7 linked regions of the Homo sapiens genome follow. The protein of the gene in region 5 purifies or fractionates together with the protein of the main gene of each other region. This does not show direct contact. Each region holds a gene or a part of one and is shown on either strand. Other genes may lie near its edges.

What was found.
Region 1: the proteins of INSL3 (region 5) and ARPC4-TTLL3 purify together in Homo sapiens (affinity purification with mass spectrometry, with the first as the bait; one large-scale study listed by BioGRID). This does not show direct contact.
Region 2: the proteins of INSL3 (region 5) and UBAC1 purify together in Homo sapiens (affinity purification with mass spectrometry; 3 studies listed by BioGRID and IntAct, with this or other methods). This does not show direct contact.
Region 3: the proteins of INSL3 (region 5) and MTERF4 purify together in Homo sapiens (affinity purification with mass spectrometry; 3 studies listed by BioGRID and IntAct, with this or other methods). This does not show direct contact.
Region 4: the proteins of INSL3 (region 5) and RXFP2 purify together in Homo sapiens (affinity purification with western blotting, with the first as the bait; one study listed by BioGRID). This does not show direct contact.
Region 6: the proteins of INSL3 (region 5) and GAPDHS purify together in Homo sapiens (affinity purification with mass spectrometry; 3 studies listed by BioGRID and IntAct, with this or other methods). This does not show direct contact.
Region 7: the proteins of INSL3 (region 5) and FAM163A purify together in Homo sapiens (affinity purification with mass spectrometry; one large-scale study listed by BioGRID and IntAct). This does not show direct contact.

What each region holds. Positions count from the first base shown.
Region 1 is NC_000003.12:9,827,048-9,830,547, forward strand, and holds part of ARPC4-TTLL3 (ARPC4-TTLL3 fusion protein), read left to right. Parts: coding exon 1-193; intron 194-1,912; coding exon 1,913-2,348; intron 2,349-3,500. Other genes in the region: tubulin monoglycylase TTLL3, read left to right, coding at 1-193, 1,913-2,348.
Region 2 is NC_000009.12:135,944,374-135,947,873, forward strand, and holds part of UBAC1 (ubiquitin-associated domain-containing protein 1), read right to left. Parts: coding exon 3,425-3,500; intron 1,999-3,424; coding exon 1,896-1,998; intron 1,625-1,895; coding exon 1,516-1,624; intron 878-1,515; coding exon 655-877; intron 1-654.
Region 3 is NC_000002.12:241,095,071-241,099,287, forward strand, and holds the end of MTERF4 (transcription termination factor 4, mitochondrial), read right to left. Parts: intron 2,358-4,217; coding exon 2,173-2,357; intron 1,369-2,172; coding exon 928-1,368; 3' UTR 501-927; downstream 1-500. UniProt on the Homo sapiens protein: Regulator of mitochondrial ribosome biogenesis and translation. Binds to mitochondrial ribosomal RNAs 16S, 12S and 7S and targets NSUN4 RNA methyltransferase to the mitochondrial large ribosomal subunit (39S).
Region 4 is NC_000013.11:31,791,526-31,795,025, reverse strand, and holds part of RXFP2 (relaxin receptor 2), read right to left. Parts: intron 3,221-3,500; coding exon 2,991-3,220; intron 2,349-2,990; coding exon 1,938-2,348; intron 1-1,937. UniProt on the Homo sapiens protein: Receptor for relaxin. The activity of this receptor is mediated by G proteins leading to stimulation of adenylate cyclase and an increase of cAMP. May also be a receptor for Leydig insulin-like peptide (INSL3).
Region 5 is NC_000019.10:17,818,720-17,822,645, forward strand, and holds the start of INSL3 (insulin-like 3 isoform 2 precursor), read right to left. Parts: upstream 2,801-3,926; 5' UTR 2,788-2,800; coding exon 2,598-2,787; intron 1,772-2,597; coding exon of another isoform or gene 1,677-1,771; intron 1-1,676. UniProt on the Homo sapiens protein: Seems to play a role in testicular function. May be a trophic hormone with a role in testicular descent in fetal life. Is a ligand for LGR8 receptor.
Region 6 is NC_000019.10:35,539,956-35,543,455, forward strand, and holds part of GAPDHS (glyceraldehyde-3-phosphate dehydrogenase, testis-specific), read left to right. Parts: intron 1-782; exon of another isoform or gene 783-1,629; intron 1,630-1,795; exon of another isoform or gene 1,796-2,119; intron 2,120-2,363; coding exon 2,364-2,454; intron 2,455-2,534; coding exon 2,535-2,653; intron 2,654-2,955; exon of another isoform or gene 2,956-2,989; coding exon 2,990-3,071; exon of another isoform or gene 3,072-3,318; intron 3,319-3,384; coding exon 3,385-3,500. UniProt on the Homo sapiens protein: May play an important role in regulating the switch between different pathways for energy production during spermiogenesis and in the spermatozoon. Required for sperm motility and male fertility.
Region 7 is NC_000001.11:179,741,817-179,746,090, reverse strand, and holds the start of FAM163A (protein FAM163A), read right to left. Parts: upstream 2,801-4,274; 5' UTR 2,668-2,800; exon of another isoform or gene 2,525-2,667; intron 1-2,524.

The sequences.
Region 1 (3,500 bases), on a different chromosome or scaffold from region 5:
ACCCCGTGGTGATGAAGGACGGCAAGTGGGTGGTGCAGAAGTATATTGAGCGGCCCCTCCTCATCTTTGGCACCAAGTTTGACCTCAGACAGTGGTTCCTGGTAACTGACTGGAACCCACTTACCGTGTGGTTCTACCGCGACAGCTATATCCGCTTTTCCACGCAGCCCTTCTCCCTGAAGAACCTGGACAAGTGAGCCCCTCTGCTCGCCTCCCACGAGCTCCCTGCCTAGTTGGGGAGCTGGCAAGCAAACAGGCGATTACAGTGCAGGGGACTCGCGCAGCAGCGCTAGGCTCCACACACAGACTGCAGGCAGGCAGGCCCTCATCCTGCCAGCTGTCCTTGCATCCAACAGATTTTTTTTTAACAGACAGGGGGCGGTCTCACTCTGTTACCTAGGCTGGAGTGCAGTGGCATGGTCACGGCTCACTGTAGCCTTGACTTCCTGTGCTCAAGCAATCCTTCCTCCTCAGCCTCCCAAGTGTCTGAGACCACAGGCATGTACCACAGCTGATTTTTAAGTTTTTTAATGTAGACATGGGGTCTCACTATGTTGCCCAGGTTGGTCTCAAACTCCTGGGCTCAAGCGATCATCCCACCTTGGCTTCCCAAAGTGCTGGGATTACACTATGCCTGGCCCCTCCAACAGATTTGACCGAGTGTGTACCTTGTGCCATGCACTGTTCTGGGCACTTGGGGTATAGCAGTGAACAAAACAAGATCCCAGCTCTCAAGGGCTTACATTCTAGCAGGGAGAAACAGGCAAGCAAGAACACAAGTGAAATTATCTAACAGGTTAAAAGATTATTTGGGCCAGGCGCAGTGGCTCATGCCTGTAATCCAAGCACTTTGGGAGGCCGAGGTGGGTGGATCACCTGAGGTCAGGAGTTCGAGACCAGCCTGACCAATATAGCGAAACCCCGTCTCTACTAAAAATATAAAAATTAGCCGGGCGTGTTGGCGGGCGCCAGTAGTCCCAGCTACTCGGGAGGCCGTGACAGGAGAATTGCTTGAACCTGGGAGGTGGAGGTTGCAGTGAACTGAGATCGTGCCATTGCACTCCAGCCTGGGTGACAGATCAAGGATCTGTCTCAAAAAAAAAAAAAAAAAAAAAGATTATATTTGTCGTTGGGGGAAAAAGGGAAGCAAATGTAGAGCAGGGGAAAGGAGGTCAGGAGTTTTGAAAACTAAGATGTCGTGTTAACTTCTAGGGTGAGAGAAAGCCTTGTTAAAGCCTGAATTCCAATTCTGTCTCTGCAGCTTCCAAGTTGTTTGAATCTGGTCATGTGAAAACCTATTTAAGCCTTGGTTTCCACATCTGAAGAATGGAGGCAGTAGTATGAAATTCATAGCTATCAATTATTGAGTGCTTCATATGTGATAGTGCTGAGCACTTTGTATACATGATCTCATTCTTAATAAGAACCCAGTGCATACTTCTTGTTCACCAGGTCTGAAGAAAAATATAAAAAACAGTGAAGTGGGTACTGTTACTACCCCCATTTTGCAGATGTGAAGAGCACACAGGTTAGATGACTTCCCTAAGGTCTCACAACTAGTGTGGAGATGGCGCTTGAACACGTCCTGGCGATGACGGGGCCATACCCTTACCCACCCTCTTATCTTCCAGACACTGGGATGGTTAACTGAGACTATGCACAAAGCACTTACTACTGCGGCCCCCGTAACTAGCGCCCTCAGAGCAGCCCTGAGAGATAAGAGTGGTTCTGGCCCTAGAAGAATGTGGTGGGGCCCAGGCCTCTGTCCTTTTTGTCCTTCCCAGTAGGGCCCCATCTCAAGTTGAATAGTGCAGGGTGGCCCAGGGCTGCTTCCAGGACTTGCCTGTCCTCCCTGAGTTTGGATGGGAGAGACACAAGGGCCTGGACCTCAGTTTTCTGTTCTCTGCCCCAGCTCAGTGCACCTGTGCAACAACTCCATCCAGAAGCACCTGGAGAACTCATGCCATCGGCATCCACTGCTTCCGCCAGACAACATGTGGTCTAGCCAGAGGTTCCAGGCCCACCTGCAGGAGATGGGTGCCCCAAATGCTTGGTCCACCATCATCGTGCCTGGCATGAAGGATGCTGTGATCCACGCACTTCAGACCTCCCAGGACACCGTGCAGTGTCGGAAGGCCAGCTTTGAGCTCTATGGCGCTGACTTCGTGTTCGGGGAGGACTTCCAGCCCTGGCTGATTGAGATCAACGCCAGCCCCACGATGGCACCCTCCACAGCAGTCACTGCCCGGCTCTGTGCTGGCGTGCAAGCTGACACCCTGCGCGTGGTCATTGACCGGATGCTGGACCGCAACTGTGACACAGGAGCCTTTGAGCTCATCTATAAGCAGGTGAGGAGGTTGGGCCCAGGCAGGACCCCAGAGAGTCTGCACCCTCTTCCAGGCAGCCCTGCAGTGGAGCATAGGACTCTGCAGTCAGACCCAGTTTAAGACCCAGATTCAAGTCCTGGTCCTGCTAAGGTGACCTCACTTCCTTGAGCCTCAGTTTCCTGATCTTTGAAATGGGGATATTATTACCATCTTTCTCATGGGAATGGGAGAATAAAATGAATTCATGTATGAGGATAATATTTCTAGAGAGGCATATAGCATAGCCATAAGAGCAGAGATTCTGGAATCTCCTTGGGTTCAAATTCCTGTTCAGTGACAACAAGCTATGTGACTTTGGACAAGTTCCTAACCCCTAGGTCTCCTTGTCCGTAAGAATAAAAATAGTACCTAACTCACAAAGTTAGGTACTATGAGTTGTGAGAATTAAATGAGTTGATAAGTAAAGTACTTCATTTATTTATTTTTGAGACAGAGTCTCGCTCTGTTGCCCAGGCTGGAGTGCAGTGGCATGATCTTGGCTCACTGCAACCTCTACCTCCTGGGTTCAAGCGATTCTCCTGCCTCAGCCTCCCAAGTAGTTGGGATTACAGGTGCCTACCACCACGCCTGGCTAATTTTTGTATTTTTAGTAGATACAGGGTTTTGCCATGTTGGCCAGGCTGGTCTCGAGCTCCTGACCTCAGGTGATCCGCCCACCTCGGCCTCCCAAAGTGCTGGGATTACAGGCAGAAGCCACCGTGCCCAGCCAGTAAAGTACTTTAGAATAGTGCCTGGCACGTAGTAAATGCTACTAAGTTTTAGCTAATGTTATTATTACCTAATAAGGTTAGGAGTTTCATCATGTATAACCTGTAAAGTGCCTGAATGTATAGTAATAGGCAATTACTGGTAGCTACTATTATTAGTAGTATTATAATTATTTCACTCGTCTTGCTCCAAAAAGAGATTGGAGTCTACTTGTAAAATAGAACAGCATTTTAAAAAATCAGTCAGAAAATTGATTGCAAGGCTTTCTGAGTTCTGGATAGAATTTCTTGTGGCAGTTTAAGTGGCTTCTGATTAGCCTCCGGTTTCTGTCAAGGTTTGGTTACAGGAAGAGAACGTACTGATCACATGACCTAAGTGACCTCGCCTTTGTTACAGTTGTTATTG
Region 2 (3,500 bases), on a different chromosome or scaffold from region 5:
ACGATCAGTGCCACACGAGACGACAGCATGCAGATGGAGCAGATCTGCCATCTGAGCATGTCGGAGACAGACAGAAACCTCCAAGGAGGAAGTAAAACCCGAATCAAAGAACAGGAGAGAGAAGGAAGAATGGGGAGATGAGGCGCGGGCGAGGAAGGTCCACACACACAGGCGCAGGGACCCTTCAGCCCTGCAGACTGTGCCATGGAGGCGGCTGGCAGCCTGAGCGGCCCCTCGCTCATGGACACCCCCGACGGCAAATGACCCTCCCGGTCTCTGGGCAGGGCCCCCACCCCGCAGAGAGGCTGCCGAACAGGGGGGGCTTGTGGATGAGTGGTCAGAAGGAACTGTAAAATATCAAGTTTTTCAAAAGGTGACGAATGTGGCAACACAGAGGAAACTGGGGCGCCTGGATTCAAGCCAGGATAACTTACAGGTGTGCTCAGAAACTCGGGCCACGGTCCCCAGGCCCACCGCCCCCAGGCTCGCCATTTCCCAGGCCCACCTGTAAACCCCTTCCCCAGCTTCTCTCTCTCCTGGGACAGGAGCCAGCTCAGCCCAAGGTCAGCCATGCAGCCCCAGCTTCCTTTCCATGGCGCCACCTCAAGGGAAGACACAGCGACTCTGCCTGGCGACAGGTCTAGTAACACATACCCGAGCATCAGCCCGAAACTCCCTTTTCCTCCGGATCTTCTTGAAGATTTCCGTCAGCTCATCTCTGGCCTCCTCATCGGTGGCGCTGGCTCCCGCGGCAGCCTCGGAGGCAGCTGCTGTGGCCCCCTCGGCCTCTGGGGGAGCTTGGCCAGGAAGAGGCGTGTCTATGGTCGGGTCTTCTGCGTGTTCAATTAGCCACTCCATGGCCTGAGGCACCGACATGCTGCAAGGCAAGAGACTCTTTCCAACATCCCCAGACTAACGGACCAGGGCCTTCGCCTCCTGTCCATTCCCAAGAAGAGCCTCTGCTATGGTAGTGACTTCTCCAGCATCAGCTGGTGACCCTTATAACAAGAACCTGAATGAACACAGGTGCGACGGAAGCGCTGGTCCTTGCCTCAGACTACCTTGAGACCCTGGGCAGAATCAGAAGCCCATGTCTAAGGAGAGGCAAGCGGACCCAGAGATATCTGCTGAGGGCTTAGATAGGGACCACAGGGGGAACTGCCCCCGGCTGCCCCTGGATCTCGGATTATTCATTTTAGATCTGAACACAGAAGCAGGGCAAGTAACTCACACGGGAATCCTGAGAAGACTGTTAGAGGCCGTGTCCCTGCTACGAACGGGATTCACCTTGAGTTCTCATACAACGGCCCAAAGAGAATTTACACAACGACTGTTCTGTCACATTCACCCCAAAAACACTTTGGAGGCACATATTTAAGGTACCTCTTCAAAACCCCACGTTAGAAATGATTCAGTCAAAGAGTTTAGGGTAGGAGGACGTCACCCACGGTGGGAGCCCCACAAAACCAGGCCCCAGGTGTCTCCGGCAAGGGAAGGAGGTGGCCCCCCACGCACTGGTTCAGCTGAAGGGCCTTGGTGGCTCTGTTCTCCGGAAAGCCCATCTCCGTGAGCTGCCGCAGGGCAGCCTCGTCCACACGCTCATCCTCGTCCTCGTCCAGCATTGCTGCAGGGAGACGACAGGGCCATGAGGGCTCCAGCCTCAGGTTCAGGGGCCTTATCTGAGCACAAACATTTGCAGCAATTATCTGTCTGAGCTCCACCTGCCCGCCCTCAGGCACATCAACAGGAGTTGCCGGTGAGGCAGGCCCCAGGCCCTCATCAGCGCTTCCATAAAGCACTGAGGTTCCGGTCAGTGGTCAGTGCGTGGAGCTGCAGACGCTCCCCAAGGCCGGCAGTGAACCGCCCTGGAATGCAGCATCGGGGTTGACTCATACCATTCGCCTTCTTAAACAATTCCACTGCATCTGGGTTCAGCGCTAACAGCTTCTGCGCCACCTCGATGAGAGACACCAGTATCTTCCGGAGTTCTGTCTGGAACTGTGGTGAAAAAAAAGGAGATCAATTCTCTAAATGTCCACCAAACCTACTTGGATCTATGACTTGCTCCCCTGTCCTAGAACTCTTGATTCTGAGAGTTGAGATGACATTGCTTTCTTGCAAGACAGCAGGATCAGCTGAGGGCAAGGCAGGGGATTGGCAGGGCCAAGAGCCTCCCTGCAGGTGGGACTGAAGCCAGTGGAAAGGGACAGGAACGCCTGGTGACGGTCACTCAGTGCTGGCCCGATACTCAGCCTGTGCCCTGTGAGGAAACCGTCGGCCCAGCTGGCGCAGGTGCAGGGCAAGCTGAAGACCCTCTCTGGCTTCACTGAAGAAAACAGAATCATCTGAGGCTCCACCCCCATGAGTCTGCCAGCCCCCAGTGGAGGCATGGCTGCCACACAGCGTCTGCGGCGGCCATCACTGTCCTCCCCAGGCAGGAGGAGCCGTGGGATGGACCGGAGATGCCCTCCAGAACAGCTCCTGGCTACAGGGCCTAGAGGTCAGGCGTCAGCTGTCCCTACTCTCACACAAGTGTGAGCCTTGGTGCGGACACCACACTAGAGAAATACCTCTGAGCCGGACACACACAGGATGGGAGACACACATGCTGGCTGCTGGGGAAAAGCCACCATGCCCTGGTCAGCACAGAACTCTCTGGAAGACACCCCAAGAGGTTCATTCCTAAAATGAAACAGGGCTTATAGCAGTGCCCTTAGGTTGGACTGGCATCAGATGAAGTTGGAAGCCAGCCGTCCTCCCACCCCGGCACAGCACGTGCCTGCCCTGCCTGCTGCGGCGTCCACGTGAGCACTGCAAACACTTTTCTTTTTTAACTTAGAATGTTCTGACCCAAAATAACTCACGGGTTCAGATTTGTGTGTTTTTTTTTTTCTTGAGACGGAGTTTCGCTCTTGCTGCCGAGGCTGGAGTACGATGATGCAATCTCGGCTTACTGCAACCTCCGCCTCCCGGGTTCAAGTGATTCTCCTGTCTCAGCCTCCTGAATAGCTGGGATTACAGGTGCCTGCCACTACGCCCGGCTAATTTTTGGTATTTTTAGTAGAGACGGAGTTTCATCATGTTGGCCAGGCTGGTCTCGAACTTCTGACCTCAGGTGATCCACCCGCTTCGGGTTCAGAATTCTATCTAAACGTTTTGCCAAACTCAGGGCCGGATTGACGTTTTCCCAGGGGTATCTATCTTTTCAATCCTGCCTTCAGATGGCTTTCCAACTCTTACTTGGAAATAATTTTTGATTTACAGAAAAAATGCAAAATAGTGCAGTCCTACAGACCCGCTCACCGGCTTCCCCAAATCCTCCCAGAGAATCTCCTCTTGCTGCCCCGCCCCGCAGGAACCCCCCCACAGCAATCCCCCACACGGGGACCCCATGCACCCGCCGCCGCTCTGGGCTGACACTCACGTCTCTCATGTTGGTCTGGACCGCGGCCCGGTCCATGTTGTAGGAGGGCAGGTTGGCGGTGGCCCGCAGTATGGCC
Region 3 (4,217 bases), on a different chromosome or scaffold from region 5:
CCCCCACACCCACCTTGGGGGGTCACGGATTGCTCCCTGTGGCCCTGGCTTCAGCCCACCTGCTCCATGACCCTATGCTCTTCTCCTCTGGTTCTCGAAGCTGTCTGTAACCAGGGCAGGGGAGATAACTGTATGGGACCATTCCCTGGCCTCCACCTGCCCCAGCACTCTCCAGGCCAGCACAGTCTGGCACTACAGACTACAGGGCCGGAGACACCAGGCTTGGAAGTGACCACTGGCCAAGAGCTGACATAAAAGCCAACTTCCCCAAACAGGAAGGGCCTGTTCTTCACAAAGATAAAGAAAACTGCCAGCATTTTGCTGGCCTTAAGAAGCCATGCAAAATTAACCAGTACATCATGAATTAACTTCTTTTACTCTGCTGTGCACTGAATACCATTATGAAGCAATATACTTTTGGATTAAAAATAAGCATTTTTGTGGAAAATCTGCTACATGTTTTCATAAAATAAAGTGCTATGATGTACTAAAACCTCACATTGCCTTCTCGTAATTTTATTTTTATCACAAGAAGGAAATACATAGTGATTCCTGAACCGGAAGAATGAACCCCATCTTCCAACTGTCACGGAATTATCACCAACATATTCAAAAGAGAAAAAAATAAAACCAATTGTTGATATATTGAGTCCCCTTGATGTGAATAGCTCAACATAAGTATCTTATTCAGGATGGGACAGGGCCCTCCCCACAGACACGTGACAACAGATCAAACATGCATTTCCTGTTTCCTGTTTGGTTTGATCTGTCTGCCTCTCAGGTGACTTATAATTTTTTTCATCAAGAGACCAGTTTTAGAATAAAAAATAACTTGAGAAGATTCAAGTAAAGGACCCAAAAGCTTTAAGAGAATGAAAAGCTTCCTTGATATCTCTGGGCCCTTTCGCTCTAGTCCTTCCATCACAGCTATTCCTCCTCGTCGTCGTCCTCATCCTCATCATTGTCCTCCGCCTCGTCGTCGTCCTCATCATCGTCATCCTCATCATTGTCATCCTCATCATTGTCCTCCTCATCATCGTCATCCTCATCCTCATCCAGACTTGCCCTTTTGTCATCAGATGTGCTGCTCTCAGACTCCTCCTCCTCCCGAGCCAGGAGCTTCTTAAAAACTTGAAACTCCTCAACAGAAGTACAGGCTGTCCTGGCCAAAAACTCAGCTTCTGAAACTCTGAGAATGTCCTTGAGCAATGGGTTAGGGATCTGTGTCTGCCCCTTCTTATCAGGGGTTTGGTACCGTCCCAGGCGCTCCAGGTAAATGTGTCTCTGCTTAATCTTGGTTAGTGAATACTGCAAGTACTCACTCTTTACAATGTCTGGATGCTTAATTCCCATCCTGAAGTATGCATACTGGAAGACACAAACACACTTAGGAGTCCCAGATACAGAGTATTGAAACCTATCATTCTATAAACCATAAAAACTTAAGTTGTACAAAAGGATTCAAAAAGAATTGCCTAATTGACAACAGCGAATACCCAGTCTAGGATACTGACATTTGTGTGACAGCCAGCAGTTTCAAAACACTTTCAAATTCATCCTGAGAAACATGGAGCAGGAAATAAAGGGGTGGGAGGGAAAAGGGGCAGGAGGGAGAAGGGGCAGAAGGAAGAGGTGGTATTTTTCTTTAAATGGGGAAGGAAAAGGATGAATATGGAAAGAATAGGCAAAACATTCAGAAAACATCTAGAAATTCGACCTAAGTTGTCATAATTATTACCAAAAAATCGGACAACTGTTAAAATTACATTTTCAAAATCAACATGCAAAATAGATTCTAAGGACAGGAAGGTTTCAGCTATTTTAAAATTAGCTATTTCAGAGTCCCCACTTAGACTCTAAGAATAGGACTGGATCATTCATTATTAATGGCAGAAAAGTTGAAGAATAGGTTTGATCTGTAGTAAAGAAATTAAAGATTTCTCTTTGGCTGATGTATGCAGAGAATCTAGTCTTTCACTTCCTCCACTCAAATATGAGGTGTCCGAGGCTTCTTATCCATATAACTGACCTTCACTACATTTGAAAAACCTGAGAAACTTGCTGTTACTACACTAATCACGGTACCAGTCATTCTCACCTGAAACTACGCTAATCCCATTACCAGTCATTCTCACCTGAAACTACGCTAATCACGCTATCAGTCATTCTCACCTGAAACTTGTATTCCAGTTGACCCAGGTCCTCTCGAAGAACAGAGGGGCAACTGTGCAAAATCTTGGTGACTTGCTGTACCGTGAAAAGGCACTTCTCCTTGAGAAGCCTGACAGTGTCGTTAATGTCCTGCTGGCGCATGGTGAAAATTTCAGGGCAACAGTAAAGCACCCTCTTTAATTTCCCTGCAGAACATTCAAAAAAGGCAAGCATATAATTTCAGGATACTCCAGAAACTCAAGGAGCTAGCTGCACCCAATTTAAGTCCACATTTAAAAACAAACAAGGATCCTCTCCTTCCACAGAGCAAGTGGCAATTTCAGATCTATCTTCCCAGAAGCACCATGGAAATGATACATCTCCCCACTGACTTCCTGACACTCCTCAGACTCACCATCCTTCCCTCCCTATATTCCTGCTTTATTCTGGCCTCCCACCTGAAAGGTGCCAACTTTGTATTTTGGGTCTCCTCTTGCCCTCCTCACTTGGAAAAGAATTTCCCAGGCATTTACTGGAAAGATCAGAGAGTAATATGGGAGAGTAGTTTCCTCCATATTGCTGGTTTGGGTTGATGTTTCCTTCTATAATAAAATAGTCATTGAAGCATTCACAACTAACATTCTCAAGCTGAACTCAATGAAAAGGAGTTCCATCACCATCGTCATCATAACAGTAATAACAATAATAGTAATCATGAGGACACACAACACCAATGCTGACGTCCTGGTTACCAGGGTCACCATATATCTTCTCCAAGCCAGGGCACCTTGAGTGAAAGAGGCCCTATTAAAACCGCACTAACTGGTGTAAACTGGGACTATTCCAGGCCTTCCTAGGGATAGCTGAGCAAAATTCAGTAATGGGAAACTTAAAGTCAACTATTTAAACTGTTAATTAAAATTTTCCTAACATTTGAGTTAGTGATTATCTTAATATGTGAGGAATTTCAGTTTAGGTTTATCTTCATTTCTTAAGGCTGTGCTGAGTTTGCTAATTAATCACCACCACACATAATATATTTAGACTTTTAGATTACACTGTAAGAATCTGTTAAGAAAAATATACAAGGCTACCTTTTTCTTATCTTCTAGAGAAGGAGGCCTGTAGAGATGCTGTGAAATGGTGGATCCTAAACCTTCTACCACTGCCTCAAAAAACATCTTACCAGGAAGAGTCAATAATGCAAAGAAATAATAGTGGAACTCCTCTGGTCAAAGTGGGTAAGGGTCCTTGGAGACCCCCAACTCCTCCAGAAGGCCCTTAAAGAGATTCAAGGAACTTTGAGCATCCTTGAGATGTGAATATTGTTGGGGGCAGGAGTGGGGGATAAATAGAAGGGAAGGCCACTCCACGAGTATCCCAGGAACCTGGCCAGATCTCTCATGTTCCAGAGTAAATCTAAACACTCGACTAGAATCTAAGTCTTTACAAGAGATGTTGGTTTGACATCACATCACAGAGACAGAGCACTAAGACCATTTCATGTTGATTTAAACATCAAATGCTATATGTACACATATTTATCAACATCACATTATCAGCATCAACCCACTGAACACATACCATATGCCCACCACTGCACTAGGTGCTGAAGATCCCACGGTGAACAAGGCAGACAAGAGTCTCTGCCCTGGCACTCAATTTTTTCTTCTAGTCTTAACTCCTCCTCCTTCCCTCTCAAAATGTATTCTGCACAGAAAGCCACTCCTATTCCTCACCTCCAAGCCAAATTATACAGTCCTCTCCAGGAACACTGACATACTCAGAAACCTCCCCTAATCCATCTCACCTTAGGCTGCTCTTTCCCCACCTCTGGCTCCTGTCACACTATATAAAATCTTTTTTTTTTTTTTTGAGACAGCCTTGCTGTCACCCAGGCTGGAGTGCAGTGGCGCCATCTCAGCTCACTGCAACCTCCGCCTCCTGGGTTCAAGCGATTTTCATGCCTCAGCCTCCCAAGTAGCTGGAATTACAGGTGCGTGCCACCAAGCCCAGCTAATTTTTCTATTTTTAGTTGAGTCAGGGTTTCACCATGTTGGCCAGGC
Region 4 (3,500 bases), on a different chromosome or scaffold from region 5:
AAATTAATTAAAAATTATGTATTCTTATATTCTTCAAACAGAAAAAAAATTGTACTTTAGAGCTCTGGGACTCTTCCTCTCATATGCAAATTGATGATGATGATGATTTTGTGAGTGTGTGTTTGTGTGTGTGTGTGACGATCTCTTTGTCTATCTGGAATATATCCCAGATACTTAACTCCTTTGGGCCGAGCTCCATGCCTGCATGGTATGCTCCACCAAATGAGTTTCTTCAGTCCTTCATCTTACCCTGTTCCCTGGCTTTGAGCCTGGGAATCCACTATGTCTTCCTGGAACACAGACCCCACCCCACCCTCCTCTGCCTTCGCTTGGCTAATACCTCCTCATCCTTTGGGCCTCAGTTTGAATTCATTTCTTTTGGGAAGCCTTCCCTGTTACTCAGATCTGGGGCTCCTAGAACATTCTGTACTCTTCCTTGATGGCATTTATCAGCCTGTGTGTGATGTGAGGACATGTTGACTTGTCTGCCTCCTCCTCTGTGGTCTGTAAGGCCTTTGAGGCTGGATCTGTTGTTTCTCCCGTACCTAATATAGTATATAGTGCACAGCCTATAGTGAGTGCTGAATAAATGCCTATTTGAACAATGCATGTCATGGTGTGTGTGTGTGTGTGTGTGTGTGTGTGTGTGTGTGTGTGGTGTGTGTTTCAGGGAGAGTCTCTATTAAGTGCACCTATGTTAGGAGTAATGAGGGAATGAATGATAAGGAAATACAAAGAACAGCCTGTAATACTCTGGATCCTGGGAATGACATATCTATGACCAAATAACTACCAAATAGGGTAGTGTGTGAGGGGTATTACTAAAGTGGTGCAAACTAAATGTTCTGTTTTTCAGAGGAGGAAGAGAAGGAGTAATGGAGAAGAACTGGGCATGATGGTTAGGGTCATGTCATGATGAGTTTTAAGTGACTAATTTAAACTTGACCTTGATAGTACTAGGGAGCCACTGAAGGTCTCTGAGTGGAGGTGTACACAGTCCTTTTGATAGTCAGAGAATATAACAATGGTAGTGAATAGATAAATGAGAGGAAGGGGAAGGTCCCAGAGGTTACGAGACCAGTAAGGGATAAGGTAATAATTCAGGGTTGAGGGAGTAAGGTTTCCAACTAAGGCAACAGCAGTGGGTAGAGACTGGAAGGAGCAGAAGCAGAAGCAAATTTTGAAGAAAAAGAAAGGACAGAAGAGCTTGTTGGCTCCTTGGATGGGAAGAAAAGATTAGAAGAGAGAGTCAAAAGAAGATCGCCCCAAAGAGAGGATATAGGAAAGGCCTTAATTCTAAGCAGGAGGGATACATATTAGAAAATAGAAAAAAAGTGTTTTTAACTTTAAAGGGCTAAATTTGTCATTCATTTCTAAAGAACACAGAGTCTTCTTTTACAATATTAGAAGGAATTGAGAAAACTGGAAAGGAAAGAGCTTTATTAAGCACCCTTACATTGCTGACTTAACAGCTGCATTTAACAAAGGCAATAAACCTTCCTGGTATTTCCATTCAGATATCTCTTACTTGTCAGTTTCCTGAGTTTTATTATTATTTACTTAACTCATAACTAGATTGTAAAAAAAAAAAAAAGAGTTTAAATAACTTGGTAGGTTTACAGGATGAGGCACTAAACTGGAATTCCTTCAGCTCATAGTCATTTCATATAAACATGAAATCAAAGGATCTTATGGATAATAAAAATATCATCCAGAGATCCTGGTAGTATGTCTTTATTTTCCACACTAAATATTGTCTAATAAAAAGTTTAATAAAACTTCAATAAACACAATAGTAAAAACTTTTTTGTGTGAAAAAGGACACAGTCTTGACTATGTTATCTCACTTTCTGAAACAAACAAATCCACCTTTGCTGAAATTTAACGTATTTCTAGCAAAATTATGTTTTTCCAGGAAATGAAAAAATATAATTTACCTAGGAAAATTCCAAGAGAATACCCTTTGCTTCCAATATCTTCTGTTTGGTCATAATAAAGTGGGAAACATACTCCATTTTTCCCATAAAAGTTTCCAAAATAATCCTTATTCCAAAATGGAATTACAGCTATTAAAAATCCCGCCATCCAGATGCAAATGAGGATGACTGAGGTCTGCCGTTTTCCAGGTCGAATGTTACTGAAGGGGAAGACAATGACCAGGAACTTCTCCAAAGTCAAGTAGGTCAGTAGCAGAACAGAGACTTCGGTGGACAGCATGGCCAGGAACCCCATGAGGCGGCACTGCACGCTCTCCATCCACAGCAAGGCATACTTCTGATACTGCCCTCGGTATTTTATATCGAAAATGCCAACAAAGAACAAGTAAACACCCATCAGGCAATCAGCACCTGTGGAAGAATTGAAACAGTGTATGTCATCAGTTTCCAATGTCCCTGTTTTAGTTTTCTGATTAAGTCTATTTCCAGCATTTTAATTTTCTAATTAGATCTAGTTCCTTTCATCTTATATCAAATGAACTAATGTAAACATCTGAGTACCAAGAAGCGAGTGGACTTAAAAATCTGTAATATTTCTAAAGTACTACACTATGTTTTTATTTTGTAGTTTAAAAAAATCGGAATGGGAATTTTCTGGAAGGAGGAAGGACTAGTTGTTAAACAGTTAACATATAGTATCTTCATAGTTAATAAAGGGAATCATTTTCCAGGCCTAATGAGCATAGGTATCATTGTAATTGAAGTTCAGATTAGTTTTATCACCCACAAAACTTTATAATCTGTCACTTGACTCATTGGTTGCCTATTAGCCCATTCCCAAGACATACTCCTGAGAGCAGGCCACTGTAAGGTCATACAACCTAAAACAAAGCCACAAAGAGCCAGAACTTTTATATTTAGAAAAAAAAATGTGCCCAGGATGTATAATTCACATTAAATGCCATTTGTTGAAAGCCAATAAATACATATATATGTCTAGTGCACAACTCACAGAAGATATCCTTAATCTACTTATACTGGAAACATACTTACAACAAAGGATTTTGATGGACATAGCGTGAGTTGTATTTTCAGCTTTAATGAAAGATCTCATGCCAATGACAAAAAGATTTCCAAAGCAGGTAATGAAAGCTATAACCCAGACAAATATTCTGAGGATATTGTTAGCCAAGAGGTCCTCAAATGAAGAAATGCCGTCCGTCAAGGGCATACATATTCGGACATGGGGAGCATAGGAGCAGTATCGAAAGTTTTTGAAATAACTAAAGTCAAAGGGAAAAAAAGTGTCACTTTGCAGCAATGATACAGAACCTACAGTTGCAGTCCTATCGGGGCTGCAACTCCATGCTAGGTATACAACTTCACTAGGTTTGTTTATTTTTGTTTAGTAGTGTTTATATAATTAAAGAGTTCTTCATGAAACACTAGGCAGTATCCTTTTAAAGATGAGGAACCTAAAGAACATAGGAATTCAGTAACTTGGATGAGGAGAGTTTGGGAGGACATGAAAATTTGAAATCTCAGGGGCTGTATGTTCCCTGG
Region 5 (3,926 bases):
TTCCAGGGGATACTTGTCTGGGGACAGTTTTAGATGTCACAACTTGGATGGGGTGTGAGGCTATTCATGGCATTAGGGGGCAGAAGACAGAGATGTTATCTAACACCCTACAATATACAGGACAGCCCCACTACCATATACATCCCCAAATGTCAGCATCAGCTTTTTTTTTTTGAGATGGAGTCTCGCTCTGTTGCCAAGCTGGAGTGCAGTGGCGTGATCTTGGCTCACTGCAACCTCCACCTCCCGGGTTCAAGTGATTCTCCTGCCTCAGCCTCCTGAGTAGCTGAGACTACAGGTGTGCGCCACAACGCCCGGCTAATTTTTGTATTTTTAGTAGAGACGAGGTTTCGCCACGTTGGCCAGGCTGGTCTCACCAGCCTGAGAGTAGCTAGTCACAGCTACTCAGGAGGCTGAGGTGGGCAGATTGCTTGAGTCTGGGAGGCAGAGGTTGCAATGAGCCGAGATCACGCCACTGCACTCCAGCCTGGGTGATAGAGTGAGACCCTGTCTCAAAATATATATATATAATAATAATAATATTAATATTTTTCCCTTTTTTGAGACAAGGGTCTCTGTCTCAGGCTGAGTCTCATATTGCCCAGGTTGGTCTCAAACTCCTGGCCTCAAGTGATCTTCCCTCCTAGCCTCCTGAGTAGCAGGGATTACAGGCATGAGCCACCACATCCAGCAAGGTAAGTATTTTAATGCAATACTTTTAAAATAAAATTTAAAATATTTGTAAAAAGGCCAGGCACAGCGGCTCACGCTTGTAATCCCAACACTTTGGGAGGCTGAGGCGGGCAGATCACCTGAGGTCAGGAGTTCAAGACCAGCCTGGCCCGGGCACAGTGGCTCATGCCTGTAATCCCAGCCCTTTGGGAGGCCGAGGCAGGTGGATCACGAGATCAGGAGATTGAGACCATCCTTGCTAACATGGTGAAACCCCATCTCTACTAAAAATACAAAAAATTTAGCTGGGCTTGGTGGCAGGCGCCTGCAGTCCCAGCTACTCAGGAGGCTGAGGCAGGAGAATGGCGTGAAGCCGGGAGACGGAGCTTGCAGTGAGCCGAGATCACACCACTGCACTCCAGCCTGGGGGACAGAGCGAGACTCAATGTCAAAACAAAACAAAACAAAACAAAACAAGACCAGACTGGCCAACATGGTGAAACCTGTTGTTTCACCTGTTCACCTGTCTCTACTAAAAATACAAAAAAAAAAAAAAATCAGCTGTGCATGGTAGTGGGTGACCTGGGGAGTGGCCTGTAATCCCAGCTACTTGGAAGGCTGAGGCAGGAGAATTGCTTGAACTCAGGAGGCGGAGGTTGCAGTGAGCTGAGATCGTGCCACTGCACTTCAGCCCGGGTGACAGAGCGAGACTCCATCTCAAACAAACAAACAAAATACAAAAATTAGCCAGGTGTGGTGGTGCGTGCCCGCAGTCCCAGCTACTCTGGAGGCTGAGGCAGGAAAATTGCTGGAACCCGGGAGGCAGAGGTTGCAGTGAGACGAGATCACGTCACAGCACTCTGGTTTGGGTGACAGAGCGAGGCTATGTCTCAAAATAAATAAATAAAAATAAAATAATAAAATAAAGTAACATAATTGTGAAAAGCAATACTTTTCAAAAGCAATACTTTTAAATACTTTTAAAGCTGGACACAGTGACTCACATCGCTAATCCCAACACTTTGGAAGGTCAAGGTGGGAGGATTACTTGAGCTCAGGAGTTTGAGACCAGCCTGGGAAACAGAGTGAGACTCCCTCTCTACGAAAAAGAAAAAAAAATTAGCTGGGTGTGGTGGCAGCACCTGTATCCCAGCCACTCCAGAGGCTGAGGCAGGAGGATGGTTTGAGCCCAGGAGGTTGAGCCTGCAGTGAGCCGAGATCTCACCACTGCACTCCAGCCTGGGCGTCAGAGTGAGACCCTGTCTCAAAAAACAAACAAACAAAGCAAAATTAAGGCAAAAATTCATGAAGATCAAAATATTGAAATTTTAAGACAGGATCTCACCATGTACTTGCAAGAGCCTACCTCTCCTGCCTCACTCTGTTTCTGGCCCCTCAGGGGGACTCATGCTCTGAGGACTTTCTTTTTTTTTTTTTTTTGAGACGGAGTTTCACTCTGTCGCCCAGGCTGGAGTGCAATGGCATGATATCGGCCCACTGCAACCTCTGCCTTCCGGGTTCAAGCGATTCTCCTGCCTTGGCCTCCCAAGTAGCTGGGATTACAGATGTGCATCATTATCCCCGGCTAATTTTTTTAAAAATTATTTTTAGTAGAGATGGGGTTTCACCATTTTGGCCAGGCTGGTCTCGAACTCCTGACCTCTGGGGATCCACCCGCCTCAGCCTCCCAAAGTGCTGGGATTGCAGGCGTGAGCCACCACGCCTGGCTAACGGCTCTGGGGACTTTCACACGCGCGTTCACACACACTCCAGTGCGGACCCACGATCTGTGCACGCAGCCGGCAGGTGAGCCCTGGGCACATGCATGCAAACCTGCCCACCTCCCTGCACGTGTGCATCTGCGCCTACGTGCACCTGCCCCACCTCGGCTTCCCAGAGCGCTGTCCCTGCCCGTCCCCACTCACGGTCGCCTCCGGTCGCAGGCCTCCTGGCTTCGGTGGACCAGCGGGGGCCCCCGCACACGCGCACTAGCGCGCGTACGAAGTGGTGGCCGCACAACTTCTCACGCATCTCTGGGGTGGGCGCGGGGCCCAACGCGAACACCAGGGCAGGGCCCAGCAGCACCAGCGCCCAGGCGGGCAGACGGGGGTCCATGGTGGTGGGTGGCGCCGGGGCCAAGCGGGGACCCCCTTTATAGGCGCCTGGGCCGTCCCAGCTGGGGGCCTTGGAGAAGGGACAGAACATTCTTCAGGACCGCCCAGGAAAAAGGTCAAGGGTGGGGTTAGTGCCAGAGCCTTTCTCCCAGGGCCAGGGCCTTGGATGTACTTCTCCCAGAGGGAGCACTGGGCAACGAGTCTTTCTTTTTTATTTTTTTCTTCTTTTTTTTTGAGATGGAGTCTCACTCTGTCACCCAGGTTGGAGTGCAGTGACTTGATCTCGGCTCACTGCAACTTCTGACACCCGGGTTCAAGCGATTCTCCTGCCTCAGCCTCCTGAGTAGCTGGGATTACAGGTGCGCACCACTATGCCTGGCTAATTTTTTTTTTTTTATTTTTTATTTTTAGTAGAGACTGGGGTTCGCCATGTTGGCCAGGCTGGTCTCCAACTCCTGACCTCAAGCGATCCATCTGCCTCGGCCTCCCAAAATGCTGGGATTACAGGCATGAGCTGTGCCTGGACTATTATTATTTTTATTATTATTATTGAGACAAAGTCTTGCTCTGTCTTCCAGGCTGGAGTGCAGTGATGCGATCTCGGCTCACTGCAACCTCCACCTCCTGGGTTCAAGTGATTCTCCCACCTCAGCCTCCCAAGTAGCTGGGATTACAGGTGTAAGCCACCACGCCCAGCCACCTATTTTTATTTTTTATTTTTGAGATGAGTTCTTGCTCTGTTACCCTGGCTGGAGTGCAGTGGCACGATATGGGCTCACTGCCACCTCCCTATCCCTGACTCAAGCAATTCTCCCACCTCAGCCTCCTGAGTAGCTGGGACTACAGGCCCACGCCACCACACCCGGCTAATTTTTTGTATTTTTTTTGTAGAGATGGGGTTTTGCCATGTTGCCCAGGCTGGTCTCAAACTCCTGGACTCAAGTCATCTTCCCGCCTCAGCCTCCCAAAGTCCTGGGATCACAGGCGAGAGCGACCACACCAGGGTATTTATTCATTTTTGACATAGGATCTCTCTGGGTTGGCCTGTAATGGCAGGATCATAGCTCACTGTAACCTCATTCCCCTGGGCTCAAGCGATCCTTCAGCCTCTGCCTCCTGAGTAGCTGGGACTACAGGCCT
Region 6 (3,500 bases), about 18 Mb from region 5:
TGCAGTTCCCCGCCCCTCCAGCCCCCTCTCCATCCCCGCACTGTTGGGCTGCACAAGCCAGGCTGTGTGCCTGCACTCTGCCCTGCACCTCCGCTAGCTAGCTGGGTGACCTTGGGCAAGGAACCAAACTTGCCTGAGCCTCAGTTCCCCGCTGTATCTGATGGGGATGATGAGCAAACCCACCACAGCGGTAGCTGGGAGCACGAATGGAGTGAACATGTGTTTGTGGACACTTAAACGGGCACTTCCCACAAGGCCATGGCCTTGCACGGAGGGCTCTGTCAACTGGTACCACCACTGTTGCTCTGGCATTAGCAGGTACAGGCCCTGATAGCCATTCAGAACTTCCTTTGAATGAATGAATGGAATCCTCAAAACAGCCTGGTGGGCAGGAGGCTGGGGCCCATGACAGCCTTGGGGAGGGCCTGGGGTCTTCTGGGGGCACAGTCTTTGCCTCAGGCCAACTCAGCAATTGTTGCAGAGGAATCGCAAGTGTCCCTAATTTGGAAGGCAGGAAATGGGGGGTATCTGAGAAGAGCTCGTTGGGCCAGATGATGGAAAGTGGACTGACAGAGCAGGAGACAGGAAGAGGATAACCATGCATGTGTGATGGCTTTGCAGGGCAGCCCATTCATTCATTCATTCAGGCAGTGGAAACAGGAGTGCAGACCCGAGGTGGGACCAGCCACCTGCACTCCAGCAGGCTCTCCCTCTCACTCCCCTCCCCTCTGCCCTGACAGCAGTAAAAAAATGCAAAAAATGACAGCGGTAGCACTTCCTCATCGGGTTGTGAAGGTTACATGAGTTTAATGCAGGTAAGGCACTTAGAATATGGGCACAGGACAGGTGTTCAGTAAACACGTATAAAATGGCTAACTAAAAAAAAAACACGAGGCCAGGTGCAGAGGCTCATGCCTGTCATCCCAGCACTTTGGGAGGCTGAAGTGGGGATCACCTGAGGTCAGGAGTTTGAGACCAGCCTGGCCAACAGAGCAAACCCCGTCACCACTAAAAATACAAAAAACAACAACAATAAAAAACTAGCCAGGTGTGGTAGCGCATGCCTGTAACCCCAACTACTCGGGAGGCGGAGGCAGGAGAATCGCTTGAACCCGGAAGGTGGAGGTTGCAGTGAGCCAAAATCGTGCCACTGCACTCCAGCCTGAGTGACAGAGTGAGACTCTGTCTCAAAAACAAAACAAAACAAAACAAAGAAAACCCATGAGGCCAGGCACGGTGGCTCACACCTGTAATCCCAGCACTGTGGGAGGTCAAGGATCACTTGAGCCCAGGGGTTCTAAAGCACCCTGGGCAACAAAAGTGAGACCCCATCTCTACAAAAAAATTTAAAAATTAGCTTGGCATGGTGGTGTGCGCCTGTAGTCCCAGCTACTCGGGAGGCCAAGGCAGGAGGATGGCCGGAGCCAGGAAGATCAAGGCTGCAGTGAGCTCTGATTGCACCACTGCACTCCAGCCTGGGCGACAGAGGAAGACCCTGTCTCAAAACAAACAAACCCCACAAACATTGATTGAACCCCCCATTGAGGGGAGCAGGCTCAATGGCAAAGGAAACAGACCGACACTGGCCAAGAATCACAGAAGCAAAGCACCCGGTTACTCATGATAAACCTGGGAAGGAAGAAAGTGGAACAGTTTATTCACTTAATGCTTGTTTGCTAAAGCCAAGTAGAAAACGGCAATACTAGATGTTTAGTGTGCTTCAAATACAAATGTTTGTCAAAATACCAAGTAAAAACATAAATTTATAAAACAGGAAACCAGAAACCTCCCTTACCTTTCCAATGTAAACCATGAGCCACTGCTGCCCCAAGGCTGCCTCAGGCTTCAGGAGTCCTCCAGGAGCTTTTTCTTTAATGCAGTGTCTGTTTTCAGGGACCCTCCTGGCCTTTGGCAGCCAGCTTCCTATTGCAGGAGCTGAGGGTCTAGGAGGGTTCATGGCGAGGTTGTCAGAGCTGGGAAGCAGAAAGCAGCCGGGCAGGCCTCACAGTCACAGAGTCCACGTCCCGGGCAGCATATGGAGAAAGGGTCTGGGCTGGCTGACAGCAGTCAGCATTGGCGCCTCTGAGGAGGTTGAGGGCTGAGTTGGGGAGGTCACCACCTGTACCCAGGCATAACAGGGGTGGTGCAATCAGCAAAGGGAAAGTGGTCTGAAGTGGGGCAGTGGTGAAAAGCTAGGCCAGCGGGGTGGAGCCCATCTGGAACAAGTAGGTGTGTGGGGTAGGGGACGCAGGTGGTTGCAGGTGGGCCGGTACCTGCTCAGCCTGTCAAATGGTGAAAGCCATGGACTATGAAGGTGGGGCTCAAGCAGGGGAGACTGACTCAGCCCTGCCACTTCCCCACAGCAAAGAGCCCAAACAGATCCCCTGGAGGGCTGTCGGGAGCCCCTACGTGGTGGAGTCCACAGGCGTGTACCTCTCCATACAGGCAGCTTCGGTAAGCTGGGGAGAGGTGCCCAGGGCTAGCTGGGGGGATGATGGTGCCAGAAGCCCCTGACACCTGCGCTTCCTCCCCAGGACCACATCTCTGCAGGTGCTCAACGTGTGGTCATCTCCGCGCCCTCACCGGATGCACCAATGTTCGTCATGGGTGTCAATGAAAATGACTATAACCCTGGCTCCATGAACATTGTGAGGTAATGTGGGCAGTGACATCCTGCAATGTGTGGAAGGGAGGGTAGACTCGTCCTCCCCACCCTCAGCCCCACTGGATTCCTGGTCGCTTGGCTTCTGCTTCTCCTTCCCGAAACTATCTGCTAAAAACGCATGACTTCCAGAGGACAAGCTTGGGGAGCCTCCCCAGCTGCACCTCAGTGCCTCCTTCAGTCTGACAGTGTCCCCACAGATCCCTCTCACCCTCATCCTGACGTTTCATAAAACCAAGTCTGCGTGCATACCCCAAGAGGGGTAAGGGTGGAGGGGTGGCTCTGCGACTCACCTCACAGTGTCCGTGCACACCTTGGCTGTTTCAGCAACGCGTCCTGCACCACCAACTGTTTGGCTCCCCTCGCCAAAGTCATCCACGAGCGATTTGGGATCGTGGAAGGGTTGATGGTGAGTTGAGGATGAGGGGCTGGGGCAGGAAGGATGGCAGGGAAACCCAACTTCTTCCCGGGCCTTGCTTACTGTATGGAGTTAAGAGGGAGAGACTGGTTTCGGGAGGAGAGGCCCACCAGTGCAGAAGTCACTTAAAACACTGTGCAACCCTCAGGCAAGGCTGGACCCTGGCCTGCACACATCCCCTCCTGTGGTCTGTGGTGGTGGCCCCACCAGCCTCCACACCTAGGCCACCAACTTAGTCCTGGAAAAAAGAGGCATGGGAGCTTAGGAGCATGAAGGCCTCATCTTGGTCCTTCTCTTCCCCAAGACCACAGTCCATTCCTACACGGCCACCCAGAAGACAGTGGACGGGCCATCAAGGAAGGCCTGGCGAGATGGGCGGGGTGCCCACCAGAACATCATCCCAGCCTCCACTGGGGCTGC
Region 7 (4,274 bases), on a different chromosome or scaffold from region 5:
GTTGAAAGATTTGTACTTAATAAGAAATTAGTCCTTTGTGTAGGAGTTAAACCCTTGAGTGACAGAGAGAAGGAAGTGCTGGCTGTTTACCAGGCCAGCACTTTCTGAAGTCTAGAGTCTAATGGGGTTATAAATATCTCTTGGATCTACAAGTAAGAGTCTTTATTCACGACAATTCTGGATTTCCAGCTACCACATGTGTGTCTGTTCTTAATTGGAAGAAAGTGGCCCCGAGGAAGGAGTAGTGACTTTGGAACCAAAGAGACCTGGGCTTCAAGCTCTGCTCTGCCATTAACTAGCTTTATGATCTTGGCAAATCGTTTACCCTACCCCCAAACTCAGTTTCATCACACGAAAAATGGGGAAATAATAGTAATTTTGCAAAACCTTGTGTCTGGCACATAGCAGGTACTTAATAAATGTTAGCAACTTTCATTAATGTTAATAATCACCAGGCCAGATTCTAAACCCCAGGGCACTTTTCACAATGGACAGACCCTGGAATGGCCCTACCAGAGTCAAATGACTTTTTTGTTAAGTGGCCACCCAGAAGATTCCCAACTTCTCCTCTCATCCACCTCAGCCTTGTAAAGTTTGCAGATCAGGAAAATCCCAGCGTGGGCCTCTGGGTGAGGACTGGACTGTGCTGGGGCCAGGCTCCCCTGTTACCAGCTGATGTTTGCACTCAGGCTGAAGCACTCCCTGAACTAAGCCGGGGTCATTTCCAGTTACAGACGGCAAGCTAGAGAAAAAACAGAGATTCTTGGGCCAAACAGGGGGACCTGCTCTCATCTGCACGAGCCCATCTCACCTTGCCTTTCCAGAACAGTATGCCTGATGAGGTCACTGAATGCAGATCTCTAGCCCTGGCAGGGCCGCTGCCGATCTGCCTGATGCCCCAGCAGGACCCTCCGAGAGCCACACATTACTTCCCCTCTGGACGCCAGCATGACCCTGTCTGTACCTGCTGGTTTAGATTCTCTTAGGCATGGGAACTGAAACCTCCCTAGAGAAGGCTAAGAAAATCTGTTTTCAGAGCATGTACCTTTACTGTTCCTTCCCCGGGGTCCACCTCTTTCAGGGTCTGAACGTCTGTTACATGCAAGTATTTCATTAGGGCAGAAGGAAAGCTGCCTTTCCCCTCAGGACACAGACTCCAGCGAATCTTAGGCAAAGCGAACATGCGGGATTGAAGCCCGCAGTTATTGTTTGTCTCCCACACGACATAAAACATGTGTCTGGCTCAGCTGCTAGAGGACCAAGCAGGACACAGACGCAACTGCGCAGACGTCGGTCCTGCCAGCCACGCTGCGGCCCCCTCGGAATCTCAGGATGGGGCCCCCTGGGCGCCCTGGGGGAGGGCCCAGGTGGGCGAAATGACAGGAGAAAGTGCCTGCGGGCCTCCGCCTGCAGGTTGGATGACTGCGTCCCCGTCACGTCAAACTTGCCAGGACTAGCAAACTTCCAGGGCCCCACAGTTCCACTCAGAGGAAAGGAACCCCCAGTGTGACAGGAAAACACGGCTGGTGTGTGTCGGCCAAAGGGCGCTGACCGAGGGAACAGATCTGCACCCCTGACTTCCCTCGCGGCCTTCGGAGCCGCAGAGAACCAGGATGCCACCCACCCAGGGCCCCGGCGCGCGGCTCTCGGCCTCTACCCGCCCCACCCAGGCCAGGCCGGGTGGCGGGGTCCCAGCAGCCCAATGCGGGCCTCGTCCCCACACTGCCTTCTGCTTGCCCGCTCTGCTCTCTGCTTGGCCAGGCCCCCCTCTGGGCCGCGGGGCGGAGGCTTCCGTGTGGCCGGCGCCTTGAGCGCGCAGGGCCCTCTGGAATCGGAGTGCGGTCGCCCGCTCTGGGGCCTCGGGAGCAAGGACACCGCGGCCCCACGGGCACGTCCGGCTTCTCCGTCCTACCCCCGCTGTCCTGGCCCCAGACTCGCTGGCCGAGACGCCGGCTCCCACAGGCCCTGCCGCCTGCATGCCCACGCCGCGCCGCGAAGGCACTTCGCCCTCTTTATTTTGTAAAACTTCGGAAAAATCACCAGCAAACCGAGCCCCGGTCTCAAGGCTGCCCACAGTTGCCGGCACGAATCCGGACTCACTGACCGACGGCGGCGCATTGGCCCAGCAGACCCCGCCGGTCGGCCCCCACCCTACCCGGGTCCCCTGCCCCGGCCTCATGCTCCCCGGGTGGCGGCGGGCGCGAGGCGCAGCAGCAGCAGCGGCGTCCGCGTGAGGTCCGGCCCGGCTGAAAGCGCAGAGAAGCGGGTCGCTGCAGACACGCTGAGTAGAGCGCCTTCGGCACGGCCCGGGGGCAGGGACCCGGCAAGTCCGGCCCCGAGGCGCGAGCACCGCCACCCGCGGTCTGGCCACGAGGCCGGAGATGCCCCCGAGTCGCCGCGCCCCTCGGAGCGAGAGGCCCCTGGCGCGGAGAGGGAGAGCCAGGGCGCAGACCCAGACCCAGTGGGGAACTGCTACGCTGAAGGCGGCGCGGTGGGCAGAGGGAGGCAGCCGGGGCGCGCTTACCCGGGTGTTGAGGCGCCCTCGAAAGTACGCGGTGGCCAGACACATCCCCGCGCGGAGCCCGAGCCCGGCGGCTCCTCAGCCCGCCCGCGCCCCGCCCCGCCCCTCCGCTCGCTCCCCTGCACGATGAGGCCCCGACCCGTTACCGCGGCTGAGCAGCTCCGCTCGGGCAGCGACTCCCGCGTTCGGCTCCCACGGGGTCGCAGCGCGTCCTTCCGGGCGCCAGCGGCTGGGGCGGCACACGTGAGGCTCCGCGGCCTCCCCGGCGCTCCGAGGACTGCCCTGCTCCGGGCGTGGAGCCTCATCGCCCCTCCAGGTGGCCAGGGCTGGGGGCAGGTACCGCGCGACCTGATTGGCGCTGGCCGGAGTCCGGGGAGAATCCCCCGCCAGAGAGGCTGATGCACGCGGGCCAAGTGAAGCCACGCAGTCAAACAGCGCAACGGGCGCCTTCCAAACACCCCTGCTTAGCTCCGCTGCCTTTTTGCCTAAGAAATGTAAACGCGGGAGGCGGGCGCCCTGGGAACGCCTCAGTACAGGGGACTTTGCGCCCTACAGATCGGGTCCAGGACGGAAAATTCGGAGAGCATGAGAATCTTAGGGACCAGGGTGTGTCGCTATCCACTGGAAAGAGACTGCCTCGAGAGCCTCCCGAAGGGCTCCTCTGTGTTCCTATTTCCGGCCCGCACTGTGCCCTGGAAATCCAGGGACACCTGGATGTCCCCGCCGCTGAGGGGTACCCGGGCCTCGTGGCAGGGCGGGATCAGATCAGTCAGGGTGTGATTAGAGCTGTGACGGTGAAGTCTGGCAGGAAGAGGCAGGAAGGGAGAGAAGCAATGCCTCGACACGAGGAGAAACCTGAATGGTGCGCTAGATTTCTTGTCTGAAATCACCTTCTTTTAATGTCTTAAAACTCTAGGAGTTGCTTATGTGCTGTAGCCCAGCCAATAAGTTCTGACATCAGTAATTCAGAGGGTCTGCTGAGAGAACATGACGGCCTGAGAGGGGATAAGCTGTCACTTCTCCGCACTTCCGAAGCATCTCTATATGGAACGTTTACCTGTTCCGGTCTGATCATCTTTCTCTTGATCCTGCTTTCCGATCTTGATTGGACTGAAGACAGCGAGGACAGAGGGGTGGGGTCAACCCGGTTAATGCTCGAGGAGGGAGCGTTCCCACTACATCAACAGTTTTCCTCTCTTCTTAGGCAGGTTAGTTCTGGGGATTCAAGGCAAAGGTGATCAGGGAATCCATTTGAAAAACAAAAACAGAAAACTCCAAAACATTTAAAAACTGTGGACCCTCAGCCTAGGTCCAACTTCTAAAGAAGGGGAGTAAGAAATTTAGCACCTGGAGCAACCTTATTATTCCTAATACACTGTTAAAAAACAAAAATCCCAAGGCAAGCCACCACCTCATCATTCCAGCAAGTCTACTGTTGTTGCAGCACACTCCACTTTTTACTCTAACTCTACTCACAGGTTTTACATTTTGAGCTCAGATTTTCATGTGCCGTCTTTTCTCAGCACAGTTAAGGCTCGTGCCTACATTCTTCCTCATCTCAAAGGCAAAACAATGAAATATGAAGAGGACGTGTGATTTTGTTATAAACTGTAACACAGAAAAGTGAAAACAACGTACCTTCATAGCCTAATGAATCATAAACCAAACACCACCCAGGTCATTGCTACCACCCCAGAGGTTCCCCTGCTCCACCAATTCCCTTCCACAAGTCCTTCCCTTCCCCCTAAAGCAA